Linked DNA regions of Homo sapiens. The protein of the gene in region 1 purifies or fractionates together with the protein of each later gene. This does not show direct contact. Each region holds a gene or a part of one and is shown on either strand. Other genes may lie near its edges.

Region 1 (3,500 bases):
AAACCAAGGTAGGCAGATTGCCTGAGCTCAGGAGTTCAAAACCACCCTGGGCAACGTGGTGAAACCCTGTCTCTACTAAAATCCAAAAAAATTACCTGGCCATGGTGGCGCACACCTGTCTGTAGTCCCAGCTACTCGGGAAGCTGAGGTGGGAGAATCGCTTGAGCCCAGGAGGCGGAGGTTGCAGTGAGCCAAGATTGTGCCACTGCACTCCAGCTTGGGCAACAGAGTGAGACTCCATCTCAAAAAAAAATATATATATATATATATATGTGTGTGTGTGTGTATATATGTATATGTGTATATGTATATATGTATACACACACACATCTATCTATCTAATTTTTAAGTTGAAAATGAAACTTCAGTTCTAGGAAAGGTATACGGACTCTTCACTTTTCACTCTTCACAGTTCTGTATTACATTCATTTATTTTGTATGGTAAAAATTAGCACTTCAGTTTTTGCCACTTTTATCCCATTCACTTGATGATTTGCGCCAGCATTCTAGCTTACCATCCAGTACCAAGAAAGGAAATGTGCAGGGTATTTTTGAAAAATTGCCTTATTCTGCACCCATCTCTAGAGGCAACGGAAACTTTAAATTCTTTTCATTGTCACAGAGAGTTACCTGGAGAAAAAACAGTCTGCTCAGACCACTTAAATTATCCCTCATCGTTGCTTCTCTGTCTCCAAATACCGAAATTCTAAGAAAGCAAGCAAAATTATTGTTAATGAAACATAGTGTTTATTCTTTATAATATAGGATTGTTCTGGATGTATTCATTAAAGTGGACATTTTGTGTAATATATATCCTATAAGATTGTGAGGTAATTCTGTTTTGAATGTAGAGAATTACTGTGTCATCTCTACTCCTGTTTTATATTGTTAATCATTAGTCCCTTGATCAAGAGTTCAGAGTACAATTTTGTGGGAAACTGTAACCCTGTAGGACCTCTTTTTATTTCATGAATTCCAGACATAGGAACACTGTGGCCAAAATAACCCAAAAATGCACGAAAGATTCAGCCACTTCAAACTGGCTCCCAGGCTATTTTGATTTTATTTGTTTGTTTTTAATGTGTTCTGGATATTATCCCTTTAACCTAAATATATATGTTTAACCTTGGCACATACAGGCCCACTTAACTTAGTATCTGTTTCTTCTTGGAAATATCCTAATTTTCAATTAAATATATTCTTGATGTAATTTCTCTTTTAAGATTTGAGAAACGAATTTATATTCCCTTGCCGGAACCCCATGCCCGAGCAGCAATGTTTAAACTGCACCTAGGGACCACTCAGAACAGTCTCACGGAAGCAGACTTTCGGGAACTTGGGAGGAAAACAGATGGTTATTCAGGGGCAGATATAAGTATCATTGTACGTGATGCCCTTATGCAGCCTGTTAGGAAAGTACAGTCAGCTACTCATTTTAAAAAGGTAAGTCATTTTTATCTATCCTTTCCTATCTTTTTTTTTTTTTTTTGAGACAGTCTCACTCTGTTGCCCAGGCTGGAGTGCAGTGGCACTATCTGGGCTTGCTGCAACCTCCGCCTCCCGGGTTCAAGCAATTCTCATGCCTTAGCCTCCTGAGTAGCTGGAATTACAGGCGTGTGCCACCACGCCTGGCTAATTTTTTGTATTTTTAGTAGAGACAGGATTTCACCATGTTGGCCAGGCTGGTCTCGAACTCCTGACTCCAGGTGATCCACCCACCTCGGCCTCCCAAAGGCGTGAGCCACTGCGCCTGGCCCTTTTCCTGTATTTTTAAAATCAAGTTTCAAGACCGTCATTGGTTTGTCTTCAAAGAATTTGGGAGGATTTCAGTGTTGTATAATAATACCATAAGTGGGTTTACATAATAGACATATTTCTGTGTCACTGAAACAAGTTCTTTAATAAAGTTTATTTATTGGCCATTTTTGGCTGGGTGCAGTGCCCCATACCTGTAATCCCAGCACTTTAGGAGGCCGAGGTGGGCAGATCTCTTGAGCTCAGGAGAGACCAGCCTCAGGCAACATGGCAAAACCCCATCTCTGTAAAAAATACAAAAATTAGCTGGATGTGGTGGCACACTCCTGTAGTCCCAGCTACTTGGGAGGCTGAAGTGGGAGAATCTCTTGAGCCCAGGAGGTGGAGGTTGCAGTGAGCCGAGATTGCACCAGTGTACTCCAGCCTGGGTGACACAGTGAGACCCTGTCTTAAAAAAAGAAAAGGCCTTATTAATCATCCTAATGTGTTTTAAATTTTCCTATGAAATGATTTTTGAAGTATTTGTGTATTATTTTGATATAAGTATAGAAACTTAAATGTACAGATGTAAGGCTGCTTCTGACACATCTAGAATATTTTTGAGTAGAATCTGGTGCATTTATACCTCATAAAGTAAAAATAATAATAGCTAATATCTTTTAAATATTCACATGCCTGGCACTGTGTTCTGTCTTTTATCTTACTATTTCATTTGGTCTTCACAAAAATCAGCAAGAGAGGTACATGTAGCCAGCCACCTAATGGTGGTTAGTCTTGGACGTAGGTGCTAACACAGTAGCTAGAGTGGGACAGACATGTGATTTGCCTGGAGGTGAGGTGTGTTTCCAAATCTGAAATCTCAGCCATTCTGCTATCCTGCCCCTCCTGTGTTCTGTTTTGTCTGCAAGAACAAGTTAAGCATCTGTGGCTGAGATAAAGTTTTATAAGAAGGCTGTGGTCTTGAGATACCCAGTTTGAGTAACAATGAACTAGGTAATCTGGACCAACCCTTTTGCTGTGAACAACAGTATCCAGTATTACTCATGAACATACATGTGAAAAACTATTAGCAAACCTAATCTCATAATGTATGTCAAGACTAATATGACTAAGTCACATACGTATATTTATCATGTACCATAATAAGATTTTTTTAAGTTAACAAGCTTGAATTAAAATCTGAATTTGAAGCCTGGCACCATTTACTTGTTATACCTTTTTGAGCAAATTCTATTACTTCTTTAAAGCTCATTTTTATCATTTCTAAAATGGGGATGTGATAATGCTATTTTGAAGTCCTTTCCAATAATGAAGTGATATAATACTCATAAAACACCAGTCGTGGTACTTCAGATGCGTAGGGAATGTTACTCATCCACCCTTCTTCAGCCATTTCATTACTGAAGTACTGTTAAGTTTATGCCACAGCCATTATGTTTTTTCTTAAATTCTCTTTGCCATTTAGAAACTATAAATGCATAGGAACTCAGTCCTTTCCTACTGAGAGTTTGTCACTCAATTCTGCATATTACTGCCAGGGTGAGCTCACATGACGCTGAAGCCAGGTCCTTGTTAGTGGGATGAAGGTGACACAGCCAGATGAGTTTTATCTCTGCAGCTGGGGATCACCAGCTGCAGCAGACCTCTCAGCGGCTCCATCCTTTACTTCTTTTAAAGCTGATTATTTCAGTTAACAAGAAGAAGATTCCCTGTTTATTTTTTGCATTTACTAGTATTTTATTTCT
Region 2 (3,504 bases), on another chromosome or scaffold:
TTTAGAGTATACATATTTGCTGCTTTTCCTTTAGTGTTCACAAAAATCCCAAGGTCAGTTTAGTGTGGCTGAGTTGTTGTTATCTGGACCCTAAACAATCATTACCACCTGTAGACAGTTCTTACCTACCCCTCTCCTCCACAATCCTAGTCCATTTGGAGGCAACTATCCTGTGGCCTCCAAGTGAATAAATCTTTCTTACACTTACTTACGTGATATTTTCTATCATAATTATCTCTCTCATTTCTTCCAATAGTAATAGCGGTAATATTGTTCCATTGAATATCTATGCACCTAGCTCATCTCTTAGAAACATCCCACATAGTAGCATCGTATTACTCTCTGGTAAAAAGAAAGATTAAATTAAAAGGACTCTACACAGTGCTGAATTTCCTGCACCTAAATTATTCAGTTATCACTTGCCAGTATTAGTTGATCCTTCAGGCTATGCCAAGTGCCCCCTCATGTAGGCCTCTGTATTAAAAAGATTGGGACAAAATACTTGATTAGTTTGCCTGTAGAAGCTCAAAGTGTGTACCAAATACATTGACAGTGGATGCTTTCATGGCTCAGCCAACACAGTTCAGAGGAATCTTTTCGGCTTCCAGGGCATTGCTTGTTACCTTTTGTCAGGATCAACCCAAATCCTCAGGGATGCTGTTTTTCCACACTGTAAGTCCTAACTCATTAGTGGGTCATGAAATCAACTTAACAGCTCAAGACCAGTATATTTTAAACGTGAAATAATAAAAAATAGAGGAACAATAGAGCATATAAAATGGTTAAGTATTGGTTCCTGAAATACTGTTTCAGCTAAATATTCTATTTACTGTGTATACTGGGTCACAATATAAAGTGTTTCCTGTTATGAAATGCAATTTAAAAAAAGAAAGCTTGAAAGACTGCTGCAGGAGGCACCGGCCATCCAGTGATTGTTGGAAGAGTCTGGATTGTGTGGAGCCTGACCTTAGATAAGGAGCAGCAGATCCACAACTCAGGAAGTCTAGAGATGCTTAGCACTTCTTCTTTTGAGTGAGAAGATGGAATCACTCTTGGTTTCTAAAATATTTTTCTTCTCTGCTGTGTATCGGGCAACCTCACATGATTCAGTGGGACCAGAAAAAGCATAGAAAAATTAGATCCACACACAGCACCCAAAAAAGGCCATAGTCTTTTGTTTACCTAGATGTATTTTAACCTCTTTACCACTAAGCATTTTACTATAATAGAACTGGGGACATACATTGTCCTTTTGAGTCCGTTGAATCTGCACCATCTACCTTTTGGCTGATTCACCATACAGGTGGCAAAGGCCTTTAAAAATGGGGAGCTAATACGTAGGGCACATTCTGGTAGGGCCAAAATATTCAGTGTCTGGGGGGTGCTATGCAAATATCAATGACTTTTTACTAAAAACAGTGGATTTCCTCATTTCTTTAAGATCCAAGTAGAAAATGTAAATAACTTACATTCTGTATGCAGGACTCAATACAGACTTAGTCAATCTGATTTTTTTTGGTGCTTTTCAGTATAGCGCAACTCTAAAAGGAAACCCATTCACCCTCCTTAGTCCTTTGAAGTATACTTTTGAAATTATACCTTATTGTTAATGGCAACCTAATCAAGCTAGGATTTGTCGGTTAAAATTTTGATTCTTGTAATCTGTACTGTCAATTTTTGGCCACTCTGGCTGTTACAGCAAACTTTTCTCCCACTGTCATAATTGGTCTAAAGTAGTATTTGTTTCAGGACTATCCAAAAAGCAAGGCCAGCACATTGAGAAGATGCAGAATCCTACTCTATTACAAACCTCACTCATGTTTCTTTTATTGAAACCTTTTTCTACTTTATATTTCCTCTTTTGTAAATTTTTCCATGTCATTTAAAAAATTTTTTACTTTAGAATTACAGATTAGTTCTTTTTTTAAAGCATTATGGCATTTTCAAAAAAAAAATTATTTTGGTTACCCAAAAAGCTATACAAGAAATATAACTTCAATTTTTTAGGTTGATATGGGTATATTTTTAAAGTTTTTATTACTTTATACAAATACAAATTAATTTATATTATAGTTTAACACCTGCTATGATGATAGATATCACACTGCTATGATAGAAAATCCCTGTCTGTCATTGAACTATTCATTTAGTGTTACTCTGATATGTTAATAATGTATTCCTTCTAATGAAGTCCTTGTAACAAGAAACCCTGTGAGATTGGTATAATGAGATATCAAATAATCAGAAGTATAATTAAAATAGAACATGTTGGAAAATCCCAACATTTCCTGTTATGCCGTCATACCTCCGGTGTTCAGTTTGTTACTCAAAAGTTCCCAGTTCTTAGGCTGAAAAACATTCAAGTAAAAATGTAGCATAGATTACACTGAAATATTTTCAGTATCAATGATTTAATATCCACACAAACTATTAGGAATGGTATCTGGAACTTGTTACAAGGTCAGATAAACTGTTACAGAATTTTAGAAATAATTATCTCTGTATGTGACTGTGTATTACATATAAAAATGAATTTTTCAGGAAAAGTGCACTTTAAAAATACTTTCTCTTGCTAGTTTTTTAAATTGATGAAATAGCCTGTGCTGCTTTGGAATGCTTATTCTTTCTTTGATGAAAATACGGTCATTGATTATGATAATTTTAAAAATATCTATTTCTGCATCGCTGCAGGATTTCCTACACTTTTCTGTTCCTCATCCCTCTTTTATGTGTGCTTGGCTCAGTTGCCTGTTACACAGCCTCTGCCTTGGTTTTGTGTATTCTAAGATAATTTATAAACACAGATATTTACAGTGAAGTTCTTCCTTTTGAAACTAATCTTATTCTTTTATTCCTCTCTCTAAAAATTGGTTGGCCATGCTCACTAATGATTTTTTTTCTTAACAATAAGCATTTCTTGGTATTGGTAGATTTGGATTGCATGGTAAGATGACTGCCCATTTTCACCATGTATACCTTTGTCAAATAAAGATTTCTGATCTTTGGTCTGCTTCTGTTTTTAGTTTTTTGATAGAACTAGAAACATTATTAATACCCTTCCCTTGCCTATATAAATTCCACCCTCTTTGGGGCTGAAACAAATGTGAATAACAGATTGCCCAAGGTCCTGATTTTTCAGTCAAAGCAGGCGACATTCCAGCCCAGCATGATCATTGCTGACTAAAAGCTTGGGGTGGTATAGTACCTAGTAAATTCTCTTTTTTTTTTTTTTTTTGAGACAGACAGTATTGCTCTGTCACCAGGCTGCAGTGCAGTGGCACGATCTCGGCTCACTGCAACGTTCACCTCCCAGGTTCAAGTGATCTTCCTGCCTCAGCCTCCCGAGTCGCTGGGACTACAGGTGTGTGCCACCACGCCCAGCTAATTTTTGTATTTTTTTTTTTTTAGTAGAGATGGGGTTTCACCATGTTGGCCAGGATTGTCTCGACCTAGTGAATTCTTAACCACCGACATTCTGTCTCTTAACCTTAGAAAACTCCGCAT
Region 3 (2,729 bases), on another chromosome or scaffold:
AAATTGATAACTCATATGAAAACCAACCCCACCATATGTTCACTGTCTACTTGTGTCCATCTTCGTCCCACGCACCCCACAAGGACCTTCCCCGCCATGTGCCTCAAACATCAGTTCCTGACTCAGGGCCTTTGTATTTGCAGTGCCCGTTGCAAAGAGCACAATTCTTTATTTTATCTGTGGCTTGTCCGTCATGTCTTTTTTTCCATGACACCTCCACACAGGCCTTCCCTGCCTGCCTGGTTTAAAATTCCAGCCCCTTACCCTTCCTCCTTTATTCTTCTCCCTAGCAATTTCCACCATGCTGCCTGGTGTATTTTCCTCATTTCTCTGTGGCTTCTACACTAGAAAATATTTCCCTTTTGTTCACCACTATGAGTCTAGACCCATGACTGCCATACAGCAGGCATTCCATAAATGCACCTGTGGAGAGTTGACCCATGCTTGTTGCGTGACTTCTGTCTGATTTTTTTCTGTGTTGCAGCATAAGAAGCGCTAATAGGGAGAACCAACTTGGCTAAAACACACCAGGCTTTTTCACCTCTAGTCTGTACCTGGGCTGTATCCCTTCTCAACCCTAAAGCTAAAAAGTCATTGTGAACCTTTTGGTCTGATGCTAAAGAAGGGAAAACAGGTACAGGAAATCCCATGTGGATGCTTGCTTCCAGGATTTCCTGCCATGATTCCAGAATCCCACAGCTCCAACATGATTGCAAAAGACTCCCTGCTCATTTTTCCTCAGCATGCACAGCGCTGTCCTGTCTCAGTTGCAACTCGACAGAGCCGCATTTACTCCAGAACCCAATCCACACACCTGCTCATCCTGCCCCGAGAGGAGTGCCTGAAGCCAATAGCAGGGAACTAGAGCAGACTTGGGTGGATCTTCATTGGATATTAGGTATCTTGCCCTAGATAGGCAGCAGTGGCCTTACAGATGCTGACAGATGATCTGATTAGATGCACAGTTGCTGGGTGGCGTCTGGGGCCAGTCTATTGGCAGTTCTGGGAGTGGGAACTATTTGGGCTCTGCAAAGATGGTTTCACCTTTAAGAAGGGCAGTATGGGGAGGTGAAGATGGGGCCCAAAGGATAGAACATAGTCAAAGAAGCAGGGCCACAATGCCCCTTTAATTCCCAAGCCCTAGTTGGGCAGTGCTTGGTGACACATCCCATTACCTCACCTTAGATCAATGTCTACTGAGCCATCATTAGCTCTGCTTCCTCACTTCTTCACAGTATCTGATGGCCCATCACATGCTGCTCAACATCTTAGACCAATGTCTGCTCACCCATTACCTCCCTTCACCTCATCCAGCACTGTATCTGAAGCTTCACTATTCTTCCTTCAGTTTTGGATATTTTGTGATACAACATTATCCCCAACTTAGGACAATGTCAGCTGACTCTCAGGAGGGTGCCTGGAGATCACCTCTTCCTTCCTAACATACCCTAGAACAAGGTCTGGTCCCCTTCATTATTCCCATTTTACCTTACTCCTAAGTGTATCACTCCTCATGAATTCCAGGAAATATGGAGGAAAACACATTTCACTGTACATGACTTTCAATAATTTCTCCTTTATATTTATTGTAACGTGATATTTTAGTGCTGACATATATATGTATATGTATGCCCATTTATATAAAAGACTAGTTTTTAGAGAAATTTTAGGTTCACAGCAAAATGGGGCAGAAGGTACAGAGATTTCCCATATATCCCCTACCCTCACATATACACAGCCTCCCCCATCATCAACATCCCCCTTCAGAGTGGTACATTTGTTACAATTGATGAAACTACATTGACACTATCGGCCAAAGTCCATGGTTTAATTAGGGTTCAGTCTTGATGTGCATTCTGTGGGTTGAGACAAATGAATAATGACATGTATGCATTATTACAGAAGGATAAAGAGCCGTTTCACTGTCCCAATAATCCTCTGTGTTTCGCCTACTCCTCTAAACTCCTGGCTATTTTCTTTTGTCTCCATAATTTTGCCTCTGAACCATAAAGTATGCAGCCTTTTCAGATTGATTTGTTTCACTTAGTAATGTGGATTTAAGTTTCTTCCATGTCTTTTCGTAGCTTGCTAGCTCTTTTTTTTTTTTTTTTCTCATTGAATAATATGCTATTGTCTGGAAGTACCATGACTTATTTATCCATTCACCTACTGAAGGACACCTTAATTGCTTCCAAGTTTTGTTGATTATGAATAAAGATGCTATAAACACCTGTGTGCAGGTTTTTGTGTGAACATGACTGTAATATTTTAAGGTCGTATTTATTGAGGTATAATTTACATACAGTAATATTCACCCTTTTTAGTGTGGAATTCTCAAAGTTTTGACAATTACATCATGCAGTCAATACCACAGTCAAGACAGAGAACAGTTCCCTCACTTCCCTACATTTCCTCCTATTACTTTTTAGTCCATCCCTTTGCCCACCCCCAGGCCTTGATGATCACAAGCCCATTTTCTGTCTGTATAATTTTGCCTTTTCCACATGTTGTATAAATGGAGACATCCTGTGTGTGTCTCTGTCTGTTTATATATGTGTATGTATCTCTCTTTTTGAGTCGGACTTGTTTCATTTAATGTGATGTATTTGCGATCTATCCATATTGTTATATGAGATAAAAATGGAAAATAAGGTGATGAAAAGATGCTCGACATCTTTAATTTTCAAGAAAATGAAAATGAAAACCACAATGAGATACCTGTACACACC

What was found. Proteins that work in one complex are often made in the same cells at the same time.
Region 2: the proteins of VPS4B (region 1) and VPS13A fractionate together in Homo sapiens (co-fractionation; one large-scale study listed by BioGRID). This does not show direct contact.
Region 3: the proteins of VPS4B (region 1) and ZNF585B fractionate together in Homo sapiens (co-fractionation; one large-scale study listed by BioGRID). This does not show direct contact.

The regions. Positions count from the first base shown.
Region 1 is NC_000018.10:63,394,977-63,398,476, reverse strand, and holds part of VPS4B (vacuolar protein sorting-associated protein 4B), read left to right. Parts: intron 1-1,223; coding exon 1,224-1,443; intron 1,444-3,500.
Region 2 is NC_000009.12:77,418,534-77,422,037, forward strand, and holds the end of VPS13A (intermembrane lipid transfer protein VPS13A), read left to right. Parts: 3' UTR 1-3,004; downstream 3,005-3,504. UniProt on the Homo sapiens protein: Mediates the transfer of lipids between membranes at organelle contact sites. Binds phospholipids. Required for the formation or stabilization of ER-mitochondria contact sites which enable transfer of lipids between the ER and mitochondria.
Region 3 is NC_000019.10:37,181,079-37,183,807, reverse strand, and holds the end of ZNF585B (zinc finger protein 585B), read left to right. Parts: 3' UTR 1-2,229; downstream 2,230-2,729.